Linked DNA regions of Homo sapiens: region 2 is linked to region 1. Evidence: fine-mapped expression QTL. Tissue or cell type: whole blood. Region 1 holds a variant in brackets; the other region holds the start of a gene. All regions are shown on one strand. Distances are from middle to middle.

Region 1 (10,677 bases):
CATTATAATTAATTACCAGCTGACTATAGCCCAGAGAGCTTCTAAGTCTATATTTTGAATAATAACTCTGCAAAGGTAATGTGCATGTGTTTTGGGGGGAGAACGATAACCTTAAAAATCTTATAAGTGTTTCTGAGCTTGGTTCTCTAATGCCTGGAATGATACAAATTTAGGGGCATTGCCTTTTATGGGAAGAGATACTAGGAAAAAGTAAAAGGAGAAATGGGTTTTTCTGGAAAACTATAAGAACAATTATCTTAAATGAGAGATAGTTGAGGCTCTGGGGTTAATGAATAAAAAAAGATGATGGCAAAAGAAACATAAGACATTGATGAGTGAAAACAAGAGCTAATAGTTTTGGCAGAGCCAAGTTTACCAGTGTGTTGGCAGGAGTTACTGTTCCTTCTTGTGTGATTTCTTTGAGGACATTGCACTGTTTATACAGAGAGTGTAAACATAGCTGTTGATTTAACTAAACACTGTTTTTTGTTCCCCGTCTCTCACAGCCATGGTAAATAGCCTAATATTTAAGCTCAGAGGCTTTGATGTGAGTTAAGGTAAGATTCAGTTGTGCTGGTCATAGCTGTGCGCCTTAGAACAAACTTCCTACCCTCTCTGAGTCCAGTTTCAAGATTGCTACAGGAATCACAATCCTATCTGTCTCAAAAAGCAGTTTTAAGGATATAATGAGGCAATGTGTATAACCACCAGAGTATAATTTCTGGGACACAGCAAATCCTTAATGAATGTTGGGGTGAAGTGGGGTGGCACTTTGCTGTTGTCAATTTATCTAAATAAAGTCCCCACTTACAAACACCTAGTATAGAATAAAACTAACGGTCTCCAGGGTCAGCGCTAAAACCTCAGACTCTGAACAGTATCACACAAAATGCTTGCATAAGGTAGCTTTTCACAAAGAAATGCGACGAACCCTGGAAGAAAAACTGAGGATAACAGAAATGTCCACTTAGGACATTTAGACAGACCCACTCAAGTGTTTGTGAAGGGAAGATGGCACATTACCATCAGGTCTTTCTGAGCTGGCCGCAGGTCCTATCCGGGGATTCTAGAAATTAAAATGGCCTGACATGAGTCTGATTTTGCCCAAGCATCCTCACAGGACCTCTTGAGAATGTAATCATTCTACTACTTTGTCTGAGGGTAGAAACAGGGAAACAAGGGAAAGCTGGAAAGTGATTGTAGGAAGGCCCCGTAATGGGACCATGGTAGGAGGAATGTGTCTCAGGAAAGGTGAGAAAGTTATTCTCACTTCCTCTCATCATTCTCTTCATCAACCTCTCCTCAGACGGCATGGGCTAGGGCACTGGACATCCTCCAAACTTGATCAGTTATATGATATCACTCTAATATAACATAATGTTCTTAGTCTATTTTGGCTTTTATAACAAAATACCATAAACTGGTTGGCTTATAAACAACAGGAACTTATTATTTCTTACTGTTCTGGAGGCTGGAGTGTCCCAGATCAAGACACTGATAGATTCCATGTCTGGTGAGGGCCTGCTTCCTGGTTCTTCTCACTGTGTCTCACATAATGAGGGCGTTCTATGGGGTGCCTTCTAAAGGGGCACTAATCCCATTCAAGAGGGCTTCTTCATCATTGCCTAATCACCTCCCAAAGCCTCCACCTCCTGATACCATCACCTTGGGGGTTAGGATTTCAACATACCCATTTTGGAGGTACACAACATTCAGCCCATAACAATAATGAAATTGTATCCTTTTAGCAGCAGGTACCAGAATTCATCTTGTACAGGATCCATCATTGTTGGGAAAAGACCCTGGGTCAGCCCACTTCAGCCAGGGAGGTACCCATGGGGTCATGGATGTTGGCTGGCACTGTGGCTTCCACAAAATTATCCTGAGAAGGGTGAGATGTCTGTGACACTCCTGAAGTGAAGGAGGAAGAAGAGACTGAAGGAAAGAGAAAGTTAAAAGAGAGAGAAAAAAGAAGAGTCAATGCAGTGATAAAGAAGACAGCCCCTCAAAGTCTCACCAAAGCCACTAAGCCCATAAAGGCTTGGAAGTGGGTTAAGAGTATGAGTGGGGTTTGTGTCCAAGTTGACAGATCATAAAGCAGAAAAAATACAGGCAGAAGTAGAGCTAGAAGGCAATGTGGCCTCAGCTGCTAGCTGGGTTACATAAAATATCATATGATTAAACACATAGTAAGTCCTCACTTAACGTTTTTGATAGGTTCTTGGAAACTGCGACTTTAAGCAGAACTATGTGTAGCAGGTCCTCAAATAGCATCGTTTTGTTCAACATTGTTTTATTATAACGTTGATTAAAAAAAATTGGTTTTGTCACACATCATTTTGCTTAAAGTCACAGTTTCCAAGAACCGATTGAGGTCATTAAGTGAGAACCTACTGTATGTATTTCTACTAAAGGCTCAAAATATTAAGGTGCAAAAAGATCTAGAGATGAGACAGTGTGTAAGTGGCATGCCAAGCAGAGGGAACCCCCGTGCAGATGCACAGAGACAACCATGAACAAAGTCATGCACCCATCAATATTTGCTGAACTCCTGCCATGTGCAAAGGAACTATGCCAGGCTGTGGAACCCCATGTTGAGCAAAACCAGAGTCCTGGCATTCACACACCAATGAGAAAGACAGACACTAATCAAGTCACTGCACAAAAGTCTATAAAATGACAGTGGTCAGGAGGGCTATGCAGCCCTCTCATGGTGCAATGAGAGAATGAACAGGGAAGCTGGCCTCGCCAGGGGGATCAGAGACCTCTTCCACAAATAAGCAATGCTTGGCCTGAGAACTGAATGATGAGACCTTAACTAGGTGAAGAAAATAGAGCAAAGCACCCCAGGAAGAGGAATATGGGTGGCAAGTTGGAGGACTGAAAGAATGCAATGTGTGTTTAGGGCAAAAAGAACGCTGGGGAGAATGAGCAGCATGAAGCCGGGAGGTTGGAAGGAGCAGGTTTCTCAGGGGCTGCAGACCACGTTACCAAGTTTAGTTTTTACCATCAGGGAGAGAGGAAGTCACTGACAGGAAACTGATAGGAACACCCAAGAAAGTCTGAAAATGGCAGATGAGTCCTCTGCATATGCATAAACTGTGTCTCCACTTTACTTAGCATCTCCATAAACTATAAATTTGGCTTACCCTGAGTTGCTGGGCATGCCCCAAATGAAAAAATATTTAATTAACATCATTAACTTAGAAGGTTGGGCACAGTGGCTCACACCTGTAATCCAAGGACTTTGCGAGGCCGAGGCAAGAGGATTACTTGAGCTCACGAGTCAGAGACCAGACAGGGCAACATGGCAAAACCCCATCTCTACTAAAAAAAAACAAAAAACCTGGTGGGTGCTTGTAGTCCCAGCTACTCAGGAGGCTGAGGTGGGAGGATCGCTTGAACCCGGGAGGTGGAGGTTGCAGTGAACTGAGATTGCACCACTGCATTCCAGACAGCCTGGGTGACAGAGCACGACTCCACTTCAAATTTAAAAAAAGACAAAAAGTAATAGAAGGAAAAAATTTTAGCTTACTAACTGCATTGCCATAATCAGTATTTTTAAAATGAGTTTTCTATCAATACACAAGAAAAACCCTAAATTCTGAACTACCACTGAAACGTAAATACCCAGGATGTGAATTCACAATTTAATGTTTAATTTTTAGTGACTTGAAGAATACTGATCAAACAGCCGGAGTTCTATTTCTTTTTTTGTTTGTTTGTTTGTTTGTTTGAGACAGAGTTTTGCTCTCATTGCCCAGGCTGGAGTGCAATGGTGCAATCTCGGCTCACGTTACAACCTCTGCCAGTTTCAAGTGATTCTCCTGCCTCAGCCTCCTGAGTAGCTGGGATTACAGGTGCCCGCCACCATGTCCAGCTAAATTTTTTGTGTTTTTAGTAGAGATAGGGTTTCACTATGTTGGCCAGGCTGGTCTTGAACTCCTGATCTCAGGTGATCCACCCGCCTTGGCCTCCCAAAGTGCTGGGATTGCAGGCATGAGCCACCGCACCCGGCCCAGAGTTCTAATTGTGACTCTGCCTCTTATTAGTCACATAGCCTTGCACAAGTCTCCAAACCTCTCTCAGTCTCAGTTTTCTCATCCATAAAATGGGATAAAATGGGTCCAATGTGCCCCACAGTATTAAAAGTGAGATTCTTGGGCAGGGCGTGGTGACTCACGCCTGTAATCTCAGCACTTTGGGAGGCTGAGCCAGGCTGATGGCTTGAGCGAGTAGTTCGAGACCAGCCTGGGCAACATGGTGAAACCCCATCTCTACAAAAAATACAAAAATTAGCCGGGTGTGGTGGCATACACCTGTAGTCCCAGCTACTCGGGAGGCTGAGATGGGAGAATCACATGAGCCCAGGAGGTTGGGAATGCAGTAAACCGAAATCGCACCAGTGCACTCCAGCCTGGGTAATTGAGGGAGACTGTCTCAAAAAAAGAAAAGAAGCAAGTAAGAGCCTTTTGTAATAGAGTGATATACCAGACAAAGAGATTATCATTAACCTTTCTCCAAATTTGCATGGAGAAAATACAGAACTGTAGAACTTATTCCACTCAGATAGTGACTTTTTTTAACTTCATGCCTCAAACTGTTTTGTAATATTGTTACAAAATCATGCTTTAT[C/A]TTTAAATCCATTGTTCTCTAATACATCATAAAACTATTTCTTATGTACGTGAAGCCACCAAGATAGAGATTCTTTGGGAAAAAAAGTTTTGTTTCATTTTATTTCAGCCCTGATGAATAATTCAATTCCAATATTATGACCAAAGTTTTATATATATTTTTAAAAAGGAAAAGAACACATGAGGCTGGGTGTGGTGGCTCACGCCTGTAATCCCAGCACTTTGAGAGGCTGAGGCAGGGGGATCACCTGAGGTCAGGAGTTAAAGACCAGCCTGGCCAACACGGTGAAACCTCATCTCTACTAAAAATACCAAAAATTAGCCCTCCACCACACCTGTAATCACCGCTGCTCAGGAGCCTGAGGCAGGAGAATTGCTTGAACCAGGGAGGCGGAGGTTGCAGTAAGCCAATATCGCACCATTGCACTCCACAACAGAGTGAGATTTTTGTCTTAAAAAAAAAAAAGAAAGAAAGAAAAGAAAAAACATGAAAAGATGCTCAACTCATAAAAAAGAAGCACATGTTAAAACTATATGAGATGCGGCTGGGCGCAGTGGCTCACGCCTGTAATCCCAACACTTAGGGAGGCCGAGGTAGGTGGATCACGAGGTCAGGGGATTGAGACCACCCTGGCTAACACAGTGAAACCCCGTCTCTACTAAAAATACAAAAAAAACTTAGCAGGGCGTGGTGGCGCTCGCCTGTAGTCCCAGCTACTCAGGAGGCTGAGGTAGGAGAATGGTGTGAACCCAGGAGGCGGAGGCTGCAGTGAGCCGCGATCGGGCCACTGCACTCCAGCCTGGGCGACAGAGCAAGACTCTGTCTCAAAAAAAACAAACAAACAAACAAACAAAAAACTATATGAGATGCTATTTTGCACCTATCAGATTGGCAGAAATGTAAACTCTTGACAAACAAGAGAGGTTGTGGGAAAGCACACGCTCTCCTTCCCTCCTGGGCGGTACAAAATGTTACCTACGGAAAGGAAACGGGCAATATCTAGCAAAAGTACATTTGCAGTTTCCCTTTGATCCAGAGATCACGCTTCTATGAATTTACCCTGAAAATGCACCTCCAACAACAGAAGAAAACACGTGCACAAAGTTATTCATCGCAACATTATTTGTAATAGAAAAATACTGGAAACACCCTAAAGGCCCATACATAGGAGTTTGGTTGATAAACTCTGGTACAAATATAAAAAAGATTTCTGTTAAACTATATAAACTGATTTCCAGACTATATTACTAAATGAAAAAAGACTGTATATAGTATGCTACCTTTTGTGTGATAAAGACAAAATATATATTCATTCATTTATTTAAAAAAGAAAAATACAGAGGCCGGGTGCTGTGGCTCATGCACGTAATCCCAACACTTTGGGAGGCCAAGGCAGGCAGATCACAAGGTCAAGAGATCGAGACCATCCTGGCCAACAGAGTGAAACCCCGTCTCTAAAACACAAAAATTAGCTGGGCGTGGTGGCATGCCTGTAGTCCCAGCTACTCGGGAGGCTGAAGCAGGAGAATCGCTTGACCCCGGGAGGTGGAGGTTGCAGTGAGCCGAGATCGCGCCACTGCACTACAGCCTGGCGACAGAGCAAGACTCCGTTAAAAAAAAAAAAAGAAGAAAGAAAAAGAAATACAGGATAAATAAGAAATAAATGAATTTGGTTACCTGTGAGGGTTGAGGAAATGGACTGGAAAAAAATGAAAAGGGGATGGGACCTGTCTCAGTATAACTTTCATACTGTCTTGAATTTTGAACCATGCTGGTATTTTACATATTCAAAAAATAAAATTAAATCAACAAGAATGGAGGAACAGAGACCTGACAGTGAAAGAAATGAATAAACTTGATTATAATCGAATTGGTAACATGATTGGAAAGAAAAAAGAATTAATCCAAACAACTTTTGGACACAGCAGGAAAGTATTCTGGCTATACACCTTCAATGGAATAGAGTCTAAGAGTCTAAGACCAAAAAAAAAAAAAAAAAGAATCTTAAACTTGCTAGGTTTGCTTGCTTTTGGTAATAGTGTTGGTGGTGAGGCAATTCTGGAACCATTTTGTGTATATTGCAAGAATGAGCAAATGAGTAAACATCTATTGACATTTTGAGGTACCAGGAATTTCACTGTGGGAGAAAAAAGATACAAATATAGATTAGGGGAAGGAGAGGAGGAAGATCCTATATTATTGGATTGGGTATCAGTTGGTGGTATCATTATGAATTCATGATTTTGACAGAAGTATTTTCCTGTTCTGTGCATTGAAAGGCCCTAAAAGCAATTTTGCCACAGAGTAGTGAGCACACACAGCACCCATATCTTGCTCTCTAAATACCATTCACCAGACCCTTTGGAAGCATAGCTCATTTTCAGGTGAGCCTGGAACATCTTATTGTGCCAGAAATGTTAAAAGTGCTCAAAAACTGAGGAAGATGTGTCAAAGAGATACAAGAACCAGTTTATGGGGGCTGCCACTCATCAAATTTGGGGCAATTCATACTCAATAAAATAGAATTCATGAGTTCATACTGATATTAAGAAATGTTAAAGGGATTAGGAAGAGAAGGGAAGTCCTTTTTATAGAAAAATGCCAACTAATAAACATAGACAAAATGATAGAAATAGAAAATTGTCAGTCAGGCAAAGTGGCTCATGCCTGTAATCCCAGCAGTTTGGGAGGCTGAGGCAGGCAGATCATTTGAGGACAGGAGTTAGAAACCAGCCTGGTCAACATGATGAAACCCCATCTCTACTAAAAATACAAGAAACAGCTGAGCCTGGTGGCACACACCTGTAATCCCAGCTGCTAAGGAGGCTGAGGCAGGAAAATCAGGACCCAGGAGGTGGAGGTTGCAGTGAGCCAAGATCATGCCACTGCACTTCAGCCTGGGTGACAGAGCAAGACCCTGTCTCAAAAAAAGAAAAAATAATAGAAAATTGCCATTTCAATGGCTGGGCGTGGTGGTTCATGCCTATAATCTCAGCGCTTTGGGAGGACAAGATGGGTGGATCACTTGAGGTCAGGAGTTCAAGACCAGCCTGGCCAACATGGTGAAACCTGTCTCTACTAAAAATACAAAAATTAACCAGGCATAGTGGCAGGTGCCTGTAATCCCAGCTACTTGGGAGGCTGAGACAGGAGAATCACCTGAACCTGGGAGGCGGAGGTTGTGGTTAGCTGAGATGGCGCTACTGCACTCCAACCTGGGCAACAGAGCAAGACTCTGTCTCAAAAAAAAAAAAAAAAAAGAAAGAAAGAAAATTGCCATTTCGTAACTACCACAGTAATATATGATTCGCAAAGGAATCATCTGTGGGTACTAAAACCATTGGGAGAAAGATGGGGAAACAGGATATTCACGCAGTCTCAAAGTAGCACATCACTGGTTATATTTTAATTATAAAGAAAAAAAGGAATGATTATGATGGGGAAATCCAGTAGACACCACTTTAATTAAATGAACAAATTCAACATCACCAATTTTTAAAACAATTCACATCACCAGTCCTCTGCTCTGTAATGTACTGAGACCCATGACACAACCACACCCTGTGCAGTATTCTTGCCAATAATGTTTAACCAAAGTCTAGTCATGGGAAAACAATCAGACACGTGCAGAAGAACCAGCCTGAACTCTTCAAAAATGTCAATATCATGCACAAATTTTAAAAGGGCTGGCAAACTGTTTTACATTAAAGAACACTAAAGAGACATGAAAACAAATGCAAGGTCTGATCATTGCCCAAACTTTGAATTAAAAAACAAAAACTGACTTGAGCATAGCAGCACGGACCTGTGGTTCCAGCTGCTCAAGTGGCTGAGACGGGAGGAACGCTTGAGCCCAGGAGTTTGAGACCAGACTGGGCAGCACAGCGGGACCTAGTCTCTAAAAATATAAATTGAAAATTAAAATTAGAAACCATGCTAAAAAGCAGTATTGGGCCAACTGCAGAAATTTAAATATAGACTGCATATTAGAAAATAGTATTGTGTCAATGTTAAATATGACCCGAGTGTGATCTTTGCATCATGCTTATATATAGGAAAATATTCTAATTTTTGAGAGAGACATGCAGAGTGTTTTGGGGCTTGGGTATCATGATATCTGTAACTCTCAAATGGTTCAGCTAAGGATACACACGTACAAAGGGAGAGAAAGGAAGAAAATGTGACAAAAATGGTAAAATTAGTGACATATAAACAGCATATGGAAGTTCATTGTACATTTCTCACAAATCTTCTGTAGGTTTGACATTTTTCAAAGTAAAACATTGGGAATAAGAAGAAAAGGGAGTTTTTTTCACAGTCACGGCAAGATGATAGCATGGTTAGGCAACCTGAGAGCCGGTAAATATTCCTCTGGGTTGATCCTTTCCCAGAGCGCAAGCCCTCACAGAGTAATTAAGCAAAAACAAAATAAATTAAGTGAATACAAAACACCCAGTGAGATTTGAGTTTCAGGCAAGCAATGAACAATTTTTTTGGTACAAGAATGTTCCAAGTAGTGTATGGGACACCCTTTATTTGCTCTGGCAACCCCACTGAGAGGCACTTTGGCCTGTTCCATGCCCAGGGGATAAAGCATACCAGTTCAGGAACCAGGACAGTTCAAGGTTAGGTCCATTTATCTTTTTTATTTACTTTTTTTGTTTCATCGAACTCTATTTTCTTGAATGAAGGCCACTCTTCAATTTTCTCCTTATATATTGGCAGTGCAGCTCTGCCTTAGGCTCAATTTTTTCTTACTGAATTTCCAAGCTTTCTCCTACTCCCACCACATTTGACTTTCAAGTTCTTCCCTTTTCTCATTCTCTTCACTGCTTTCTTCCTTCTCAACTTCCACCTCTTTGGCCCAGGAGGGAATATCACACCTCCTAAACAATGAATGATAGCTAGCAGGGATTGCTTCTGGAAATGTGAATCATTGCATTAACCCCACCCAATATCATTAGTTAAAAGTTCTGACCTAGGCTGGCAGGGGACTCTCCCCTCCCAAGGGAAACCCTGGATGTCTTGAGGTAACTTTTTTATTTTTTATTTTTATTATTTTTTATTTTATTATACTTTAAGTTCTACGGTACATGTGCACAACGTGCAGGTTTTTTACATAGGTAGACATGTGCCATGTTGGTTTCCTGTACCCCTCAACTCATCACTTACATTAGGTATTTCTCCTAATGCTATCCCTCCCCAAGCCCCCAGCCCCCAACAGGCCCCAGTGTGTGATGTTCCCCACCCTGTGTCCATGTGTACTCGTTGTTCAACTCCCAACTATGAGTGAAAACATGCAGTGTTTGGTTTTCTATTCTTGTGATAGTTTGCTTAGAATGATGGTTTCCAGATTCATCCATGTCCCTGCAAAGGACATTAACTCATCCTTTTTTTATGGCTGCATAGTATTCCATGGTGTATATGTGCTATATTTTCTTAATCCAGTCTATTACTGATGGACATTTGGGTTAGTTCCAAGTCTTTGCTCTTGTGAATAGTGCCTCAAAAAACATAAATGTGCATGTGTCTTCATAGTAGCATGATTTGTAATCCTTTGGGTATATACCCAGTAATGGGATGGCTGGGTCAAATGGTATTTCTAGTTCTAGATCCTTGAGGAATCACCACACTGTCTTCCACAATGGTTGAACTAATTTACACTCCTACCAACAGTGTAAAAGCATTCCTATTTCTCCACATCCTCCCCAGCACCTGTTGTTTCCTGACTTTTTAATGATCACCATTCTAACTGGCATGAGATGGTATCTCATTGTGGTTTTGATTTGCATTTCTCCGATGACCAGTGATGATGAGCATTTTTTCATGTCTGTTGGCTGCATAAATGTCTTCTTTTGAGAAGTGTCTGTTCATATCCTTTACCCACTTTTTGATGGGGTGGTTTGTTTTTTTCTTCTAAATTTGTTTAAGTTTTTTGTAGACTCTGGATATTAGCCCTTTGTCAGATGAGTAGATTGCAAAGATTTTCTCCCATTCTATAGGTTGCCTCTTCACTCTGATGGTGGTTTCTTTGGCTGTGCA
Region 2 (9,152 bases), 120 kb after region 1:
TCTGGGAACGTATAAATTTGTTATTATAAAAGGCACAGATGGGGGTGGGGGGGCGGGGAATTTGTAGGCAGGGAGGCTCAGGGGGTGCTTGCTGGACGAACATTCTGGATGTTTGAGGACTCAGAAGACGCACATCCCTGTGCCCTTCTTTTTTAAACAATTATTTGAAGACAGTCTAGCTAAAGACGAATCATATCAAAATTAAAGACTTCAGAATTTGGAGGCCATGGTAGAAAGAATTAGTGATCATTCCCTACTCATTTTGAACGCAAACTAATGAATGACGCAACCTGGGCTGATGCTGCTCTACGTGACCGTCCTCAGCTGCCCCCTTCTGGTTTCTTCTCTCTAACTCATGCATGAAAGTCGACTAGGCTTACAATGCTTGTCACACTTTTCTTTGAAAAGCCCATTGATGCTGTTCTGTTGTTTTCTAGCATTATAGCAGAAGACAAGTCTAAGACCAGGCTGATTTTTGTTCTCTTGTAGGTTTTGTTTTTCTGCCTGGGTGCTTCTGTTTTTTAATTTTATCCCTGTAATTCAGAAAGAAAATTACCTCAATATAGAAATACATCTATCCAGTGACTTTTCATGCTAGGAAAACTTCAAGTTTAATCTCTACATGACTGGCTTAATTTTTACTGTCATTCTGGTGCTTCCTGTTTCTAATATGGATTTTCTCATTGCACTTCTAATTTTCTGGAATTTGCCTCACTGACCTTCCTTTACCTCTCATTTCTTTAGTTTACTTATATTCTCTTCCTTTTCATAGGAGCCATATTTTCTTGTATCCCTTTAAGGATGTTAAAAGTTTCCTACATTTTAATCTGATCCTTAAGGTAGCTTCTGCCCAAAGTACTGGGTCTTTTGTTTGATTTTCAATACCTCACACTGGATCCATGGGACAATGAGCAGTATTTGCCAGCAGGCCTGGATAATGGATTGCCCTTGATTCTTTACCTGGATGTGGTCGCAGCCCCATCTTGCTGCCCCAGCTGGGATGCCAAAACGTCTGCTCTTTGCTAAGTCCATTGGCCTAGCTATCTTTCAAGTGCAGCCGGCTTATCTATCTTAAGCTGTACAAATGCCCCATTACCAAGGTTCTCCTTGCCACCTTCTCTCAGGAACAAAAATATGAAATCTCTTTTGTATAGCAGTGGTCCAGTGGCCCCAATCTATGATGTTTAAAACTCTTGCTTGGCTGGGTGCAGTGGCTCACCCCTGTAATCCCAGCACTTTGGGAGGCCGAGGCGGGCAGATCGCTTGAGGTCAGGAGTTCGAGACCAGCCTGGCCAACATGGCAAAACCCCGTCTCTACTAAAAATACAAAAATTAGCTGGGCTTGGTAATGGGCATCTGTAATCCCAGCTACTCAGAAGGCTGAGGCAGGAGAATCACTTGAACCCAGGAGACGGAGGTTGCAATGAGCCAAGATTGCACCACTGCACTCCAGCCTCGGCGACAGAGCAAGACTCCATCTCAAACAACAACAACAACAACAAAACTCTTGCTCAATGTGTGCAGGATCAGCAGTGTGCAAAAATGTTTTTAAATGTTCTTAGATAACTTCAGTGTATTTTTCTTCTTGAAATATGTTTGACAAATGGCTTCTACTTTTAAATCTTTCCTGAGTGGAAAAGATCCTGGATAAATACATCAATAGAGTTCAGTGTTACAAGCAAAAATATACACACACACGTTGAAAACAGAATTTATCAAACCCCTGTAAAACTGTAAAGCCCTCAGTAGTTTTTTCTTTGGAAGCAGGCATATTTGGACAGCAGCAGTCAAGAACTACATAGACTTTCCACTGAATGGAACTCTAGACTTAGACAAGGTCTGGCCCACCTCGTTTTCCAGCTGTGTGGCAGTCCCCTAATCTCAGGCAGTTCAGTTTCCATTCCTATAAAATGGAAACCATTCTTGGCTTTCCACACAGTTGTGATAATCAAGTGAGGTCTTACCAGGAAAACACTTCTTTAAATGTCTAGAACTATGAAACTAATGCCTGAAGTGCGGGGTGAAACAGTTCCCTATTGCAAGTTCTGTCACATATTAGTGGAAATCTAAAAGTGGTTACAGCTTGTAACTCTTTTGACACTTCCCATACCCACCTCATTTTGACACCACTGGACAGCTGCTGCTCTGAGATAAGCTCACATACTGCTTAAATAATCGTGAAAATTATTTATTCTAACATAACATTATTTCAGGGACTTGTGCCAGTTTCAAGTGATATTAGAAACTAACAAGTAGATTATGTGACTTAATGCTTATGTGCAAAACAACTAACCAAGTTAAAAACTGAATAGTGGGGTTTTCTTTTTTGTTTGTTTTTGTTAAATAGTGGGTATTAAATAGAGGAAAGAAGTCTGTTAAACATACACAGGATCCTGAATCAGAAAATTGAGGACTAGATGTTTTCAATAGTGTCTAATGCTCTCTACTAAAATCCTTGAGTTTCAGCATCTGTAAAACTGCCATGCCAGTGCTTCTGCCCTACTCAGTTCAAAGTTGTGAGGCTAGTATGAGATAATATAATATGCTCATGGAGTTTTCTGAATCTTGTAAAGTGCTGCACAACTGTGTAATGTGTCAATAACTGAAAAAAAAATGACAGCATCTTTTATTTTTATTAAATTTTAATTTTAGGGCTGTTTTAGGTTCACAGCAAAGTTAAGCAGAAAAACAGAACTGCATATATCCCTTGTTTCCACATGTGCCTCACTGTCACTCTGCACCACAGTGGTACACTTGTTACAATCTTAAACCTACATGGACACATCATTAGCTCTCAGTGCCCATAGTTTACCTTAGGGTTCACTCTTGGTGGTGTACATTGTGTGGGTTTTGACAAACGCATAATGATATCTATCCACCATTATAGTAGTTTCACAATACATGGCATCTTTAAATACTCATTAACAATTACCATTTGAGTGAGGCTGTGTGCCTTGCACCCCTCTAAGGGCTTCTCCTGTATTAACTCATTTAATCTTCACAATATCTGTAGGAGGGAGGATATGAGATCCCAAACCCCCAGGTAGTCAAAGATGAAGGCCAAGAAACAAACCCACCACACCACCACCTCTCTATGTCCCTCCCTCCCTCCCTTCCTCCCTCCCATCACTTTTTCAGTTTCTTTCTTTCGAGATGCAGTCTCGCTCTGTCACCCAGGCTGGGGTGCAGTGGCGCAATCTTGGCTCACTGCAACCTCCGCCTCCTGGGTAGCTGGGATTACAGGTGCCCGCAAACACGCCCGGCTAATTTTTGTATTTTTAGTAGAGACGGGGTTTCACCATGTTGGCCAGGCTGGTCTAGAACTCCTTATCTCAAGTAATCTGCCGGCCTCCGGCCTCCCAAAGTGCTGGGATTACACGTGTGAGCCACTGCGCCCGGCCCCCAGTTTCTTTTATTTTCTTTCTTTCTCTCTCTTTCTTTCTTCTTTCTATCTGTCTGTCTGTCTCTCTCTTCCTATCTTCCGTTCTTTCTTTTTTTTTTTGAGACAGAGTCTCACTCCGTTGCCCAGGCTGGGAGTGCAGTGGCACGATCTCAGCTCACTGCAACCTCCGCCTCCCAGGTTCAAGCGATTCTCCTGCCTCAGCCTCCTGAGTAGCTAGGATAACAGGTGTGCACCACCACACCCGGCTAATTTTTGTATTTTTAGCAGAGATGGGGTCTCACCATGTTGGCCAACCTGGTCTCGAACTCCTGACCTCAGGTGATCTCCCCGCCTCGGCCTCCCAAAGTGCTGGGATTACAGGCGTGAGCCACGCGCCCGGCCCCCAGTTTATGTGCAGATAAGGCTTAGGGGAAAAAAAAAAGCGTCCTCTTATTGTCAATGCGATTGCATTTCTGTAGCAGGAAGTCAGAACTACTTGATGGAATTTTGAACTATCCTTTCAGAAACTGCAGGAGATCGAAGATAAACTTGGCTTTAAAAAATGTTTCACTGATTAGTTCTTCCCACATTCAAACACTGCGAATCTGTCCTCCCCAGGACTGCTTCATAGACCCCTCCTGCCCTTTTTCCTTCACTTCTAGCACTTCAATGACAAATGCCACCTGTCTTGATGTCCTCCTCTCTTCATCTGCTAGCCCTGTCCTGCCAGTATCTCATTCTTCCCTGGCCCCTCTTTACCTGGCTTCCTGTGTATGCCTGGGTACCGCGCCTGTGCAGTGTCTGGTGCTCAGGAATACTGCATCAAAAGGCAGAATTAAGCCCCTGAGCAGCCAGGACAAGGTCTGACAACACGTTTTAAATCGAGTAATTGTTGCTCGCTATAAATGTGACTATTCACACTGCTGCCCAGTCACATTTTCAAGTAGGGTTGGTTCCCAGTTCAGCACCAGAATGAAAACTGCATTAGTCACCACCCTTCAGCATCCCCAGCAGTACAGCACGCTGGGGAGAAGGGTGGAGGGTGGCGATTATACAACTCTGCGGTAACGCCATGCTCTTAAGAACAGCCTAATTGGACCACAAAAGAAGAATGAAAATGGATGTAGATGTCTGGGCATCGGAACGATCACTCTGCATTTGAGAGCATAAGCTCCCAGTGCAGGGTTGACTTATGCGTCCTTAAGTGTCACCGCCTATGATGGTGTTTGTCACGGTGAGTATTAAAGCAGGGGGTGACGCTGCACCTTGCCCCGGGGGCAGGTGGTGAAGCTACGTGCATCCGGAGTCAGCAGGTCTGAGGTCATTCCTCGCCCCCTCCCGCCCGCTCCCCGACGTCACGCCGACTCCGTCCTCGGCGGTGAAGACATTCCTCCCGGGCCCTGCGCCCTGCAGCGTGGTAACCCCACTGCCGGAGACCGTGCGCAACCCAGCTGCTAGACCCCCGGCGTTGAGCGGCAAAACCCCGCCCCGAGCGGCTTGCCCCGCCCCCGGCTCGTCACTCATGCAACTCACCCAATGGTGGCGGCGGGGGGCGGGGCTAGGACTGAGGGCGCCGTGCGCCGAAGCTTGTGGCGTCAATGCGCCCGCCGTGTCCATGGAGAGAAGCTGAGGCGGCCGACCTTCGGCCCGAGGCACCGGGGCGCCGGGACGGCGAAGATGTCGGCTTCCTTAGTCCGGGCAACTGTCCGGGCTGTGAGCAAGAGGAAGCTGCAGCCCACCCGGGCAGCCCTCACCCTGGTGAGTGCTCGCGGCGCGCGGCGGGGCCCGTGACATTGCTCGTGTCCGCCCCGTGCAAGGGGAGGTCACGGCGGCCGGGAGTGGGGCCGCAGGGACGCGGACACGTCAGACCTCGGCGTCGCTCCGACCCGCCGCACAGCCTCGCCGCCTCCTTCGCCTCCGGCCCCTCTTTGCAACGATAAACAAGTCCCGGGCGGGGCTGCTCTCTTGGCCCCGGAAACTACGTTTCCCGTCAGGCCGCGCGGCAACCGCGTGCGGGCCGGAGGGGATCCCGGGGGTGGGCGTCCCCGGGGGCCGATCGCCTCCACACTCCTGCCGGCCTGCGCTGTTCGGCCGTTCCGGTTAAGCAGAGGCTGAACGTGCCCGGTGGCGGGGGTTCCCGGTGGTGGCCCGGAGTCCTAGCCTGGAGGTGCGTGGGGTGGGGAGGGACCAGGCTGTCCGAAGGACCGCTGTGTCGGGGCGACAGCGTTCGCAGAGGGCGAGCACAGCGACAACAAAGCCCCCGGCTCCTGCCGAGGTCACGGCCGCGGCGCGCAAAGCGTTACTTGCCGGTGTCCTGGGTGATTGAGGCCTTTGAAACTCCCTCTGTGCCTCTAGCAAGCCTAGGCTCTTAGGACAAAAGATGATTTCCCAGAGTGAGTTTACAGCCTTTTCTGGGTGAAAGGTCAAACACTCAGAGGGCACCAGAGTGCAACCATTGATTACTTAGAGAATTCACTGAGCTCAGTGTTCCGGCCGCACCGTTCAGTTTTTTAGTGGAAGGAAAATCCACATAACATAAAATTAGTCCTTTTAAAGGGTACAATTCAGTGCCATTTAAGACATTCACAGTGTCGTGCAACCATCACCTCTATCTAGTTCCAAAATACTTTCACCCCAAAAGAAAAATTTATGATCACGTTCCTACATACACTCCCCTTTTAGTGAAGGAGACGACTTTATGCAACCATTCGCTTAGAGACTGGGAAAAAAAACGATTTAAATTGACTCATCGATTCTGTTGCATCTAATGCCAAAAGGGCCTATTACCAGAAAATAAGTTTGTAGCAAAGTAGAAGAAAATTGTGATCAGGTGAGAGAATTTATTTTTATAATCAATTTTTTAGGCCTTTGATATTACCCTGATTATATATGGTACTACTAGTGTACTGATTATGTATCATTCTATATTACCTCTTTTCTGTAGGAGCAAGCTTATTTTCATACACCGTGGGATGTAGAATTAAACAAGGTTTTAAGAACTAGAGGGCACAACTCATTCTTTGTGTCTCTTTCAATCTCAGTAAGAATTATTCAGAATTCTTCCACTGGTAATGGTAGATCCAGGAAGAGCCAGAAGGTTCAGGAACAGTTTTTGCCTTTTCTTTTTTGCTTTTTAGCAACCCTATTAACTGGGTTTTTTGTTTTTTGTTTTTTGTTTGTTTGTTTGTTTTTGTTTGTTTTGTTTTTGGAGACAGGGTCTCACTCTATCTCCCAGGCTGTAGTTCAGTGGTGCAATCATGGCACACTGCAGCGTCAACCTCCTGGGCCCAAGCGATCCTCCCACCTCAGGCTCCCAAGTCGCTGGGACCACCGGTGTGCACCGTCATGCATGCACCTAGGGTCTCCCTGGGTTGCCCAGGCTGGTCTCGAACTCCTGGGCTCAAGCAGTCCACTGCCTCAGGCTCCCAGTGTGCAGGGATTACAGGTGTGAGCCACCATGCCTGGTCCCTGATGTCTTTCTCCATCACCATTTGACATGTTACCTCTTCCTTCAGAATTTCTTTTTTTTTTTTTTTTTTTTGAGACAGGGTTTCGCTGGGTTGCCCAGGCTGGAGTGCAGTGGCGTGATCTCAGCTCACTGCAGCCTCTGCCTACTGAGTTCAAGCAACTCTCTGCCTCAGCCTCCTGAGTAGCTGGGATTACAGACGCCCACCACCATGCCCAGCTTATTTATTTATTTATTTTTGTATTTTTAGTAGAGATGGGGTTTCACCATCTTCACCAGGCTGGTCTTGGACTCCTGACCTCGTGATCCACTCGTCTCAGCCTCCCAAAGTGCTGGGATCACAGGCATGAGCCACCGTGCCTTGCCCTTCCTTCAGAATTTCTATGTCAGTCCCTTTCTCTCCATTCCTAGTCATTCAGCAGACATTTATCAAGATCTGCTGTGTTTCAAGACAAATGAATGAGTTATACAGTTCCCAGCCTACGGGGCACAGTCGCAGGCCAAGCCTTTGCCACCTCTTACTAGGAGTAATAGCACTGCACATTCTCAGGCTTGGTCTCTCTCCACACTTGCTCCCCTCTGCTTCAGTACATGTTATCATAGCAGTTCTCAAGGTATCCATGTTGCCTGACTCAGCTGTTTTGATTAACTTGCAGGAGTCTACTGTCTGTACTCTGTTGTCCTACTTAAGTATGGCTGACTTTAGAAGCTTCTCAGAAGCTGTACCAGAGAGAAGGCACATCAATGCTGTTTTCCACACAGCCTGTGTTGGTGGGCTTGCAGTCATTTTAGTTCCAGCATTCGTGCCCTAGTCAGGACACTATGGCATGTATTGCTCTTTGTGCTTAGTTTATCATCAGCATGTATCGTCAAGTGCAAAAGTAGTGATGCCGTCAAAGGCCTAATGAATGGAGACAGATAAGAGAGCAAACAAAAGTATACGTAATTCAGTAAAACTGATTGGAAGAGGTAAATGTTACTTGGGTCTAATAAGTAGAGACAGATAAGAGCAAACACAAGTATACCTAATTCAGTAAAACTGATTGGAAGGGATAAATGTTACCTGGATATATAAATTTTGATGTTAGGAATTTGACATGTTGCAACATTTGAAAAGTGCTATATGTGTGGAGTCTACCAGATGTCAACAAAAGGCTAGGAAAAGTAACTGATAATATAACACAGTTCAATGCTGTCATTATCAGATTATCTACATCTTCCCTATTTCCCTACATATCTAGAAATTGACAAGTGGAATTGAACTTGCAGGAGCCAGATGTGATTAAAGAATCTGAAGAGTAAATAGTGCCCTGCTTGCAGACAGATTTATTTCCATCATTGTACAAGTCAGAGCAACTCTAATTTGTAGGACTGGGGTGGATCACAGCTGTGCATTAAAACTCAACCAAGTTCTATGAGAGAATGATGGTGCACAGCCACTATCATTCTTGATGAATTCATTGTGTACGGAAGGTGCCTTAGGGCTTAACTTTCTATTGGAGTCCAGTTGAGAAGCTAGGAAATGCTTAATGCTCAGTAAGGAACTGTGTGTTAGTTCATTGGACTAGAACCAGAAGTCCTTTTGAACAGTGACCAAGCACTAAGATTTCTATACGAAGGCAGTTTAGGAAATACTACACAAGAAGCACTGGAAGTAGCCTAGCAGTCTAACAGTGAAAGAACGGTTAAGTACGTGAGAGTAGATCCTGTTGGTGAAGGATGTAGTCATTGTAAATTATGGTTTTTTTTAAGTTTCAGCGTTATAAATCTTCATTCTTTGACTTATGCTGTGCAAATTATTTAATCTTTAATACCTAAATCACAATGGCAGGAATAAAAAGATGTTACGTTTAAACCATTAAACACTTAGAAGGTGCTCAGTAAATGGTGAATATATGTTTATTACCATGTATCAAATGAAAAAATAATTTGTTAAATTGTTTCAATGGAGGCTGCAAAATTATGTATATATGCCATGATTACAAACCTTTTTCTTTTTAGAGACAGGATCTTCCTCTGTCACCCAGGCTCATATGCAGTGGCATGATCATGGCTTACTGCAGCTTCAAACTCCTGGGCTCAAGCAATCCTTTCACCTCAGCCTCCCAAGTAACTGGGACTACAGGCACATGTCACCTTGACTGCTAATTTTTTTTTTTTAATTTATTGTAGAGACAGGGTCTTGCTCTGTTGCACAGGCTGGTCTCAAACTCCTGGCCTCAAGCCGTCCTCCCACCTTGGCCTCCCAAAGTGCTGGCATTACAGGCATGAGCCACCACACCTGGCCTACAAATATATATTTGT

What was found. PIP is the estimated chance that this variant, and not a neighbour inherited with it, causes the effect.
Region 2: ISCA1 starts here. The variant in region 1 is fine-mapped to the expression of ISCA1 in whole blood (TOPMed, PIP above 0.99).

The regions. Positions count from the first base shown.
Region 1 is chr9:86,395,146-86,405,822 of GRCh38, reverse strand. No RefSeq gene overlaps it. Among named protein-coding and RNA genes, the nearest start is that of TUT7, 46 kb to the right of the region's middle. The variant C/A (reference allele first, on the strand shown) is at 4,636.
Region 2 is chr9:86,278,366-86,287,517 of GRCh38, reverse strand. ISCA1 (iron-sulfur cluster assembly 1) reads left to right here and starts at 4,980. Exons shown (of 4, transcript NM_030940.4): 1 at 4,980-5,140. The coding sequence starts at 5,060. It overlaps LOC124902194 (a long non-coding RNA gene), which reads left to right and starts at 5,437. Exons shown (of 2, transcript XR_007061634.1): 1 at 5,437-5,549; 2 at 6,065-9,152. RefSeq lists enhancers at 4,580-4,859, 4,980-5,129 and a silencer at 5,300-5,599.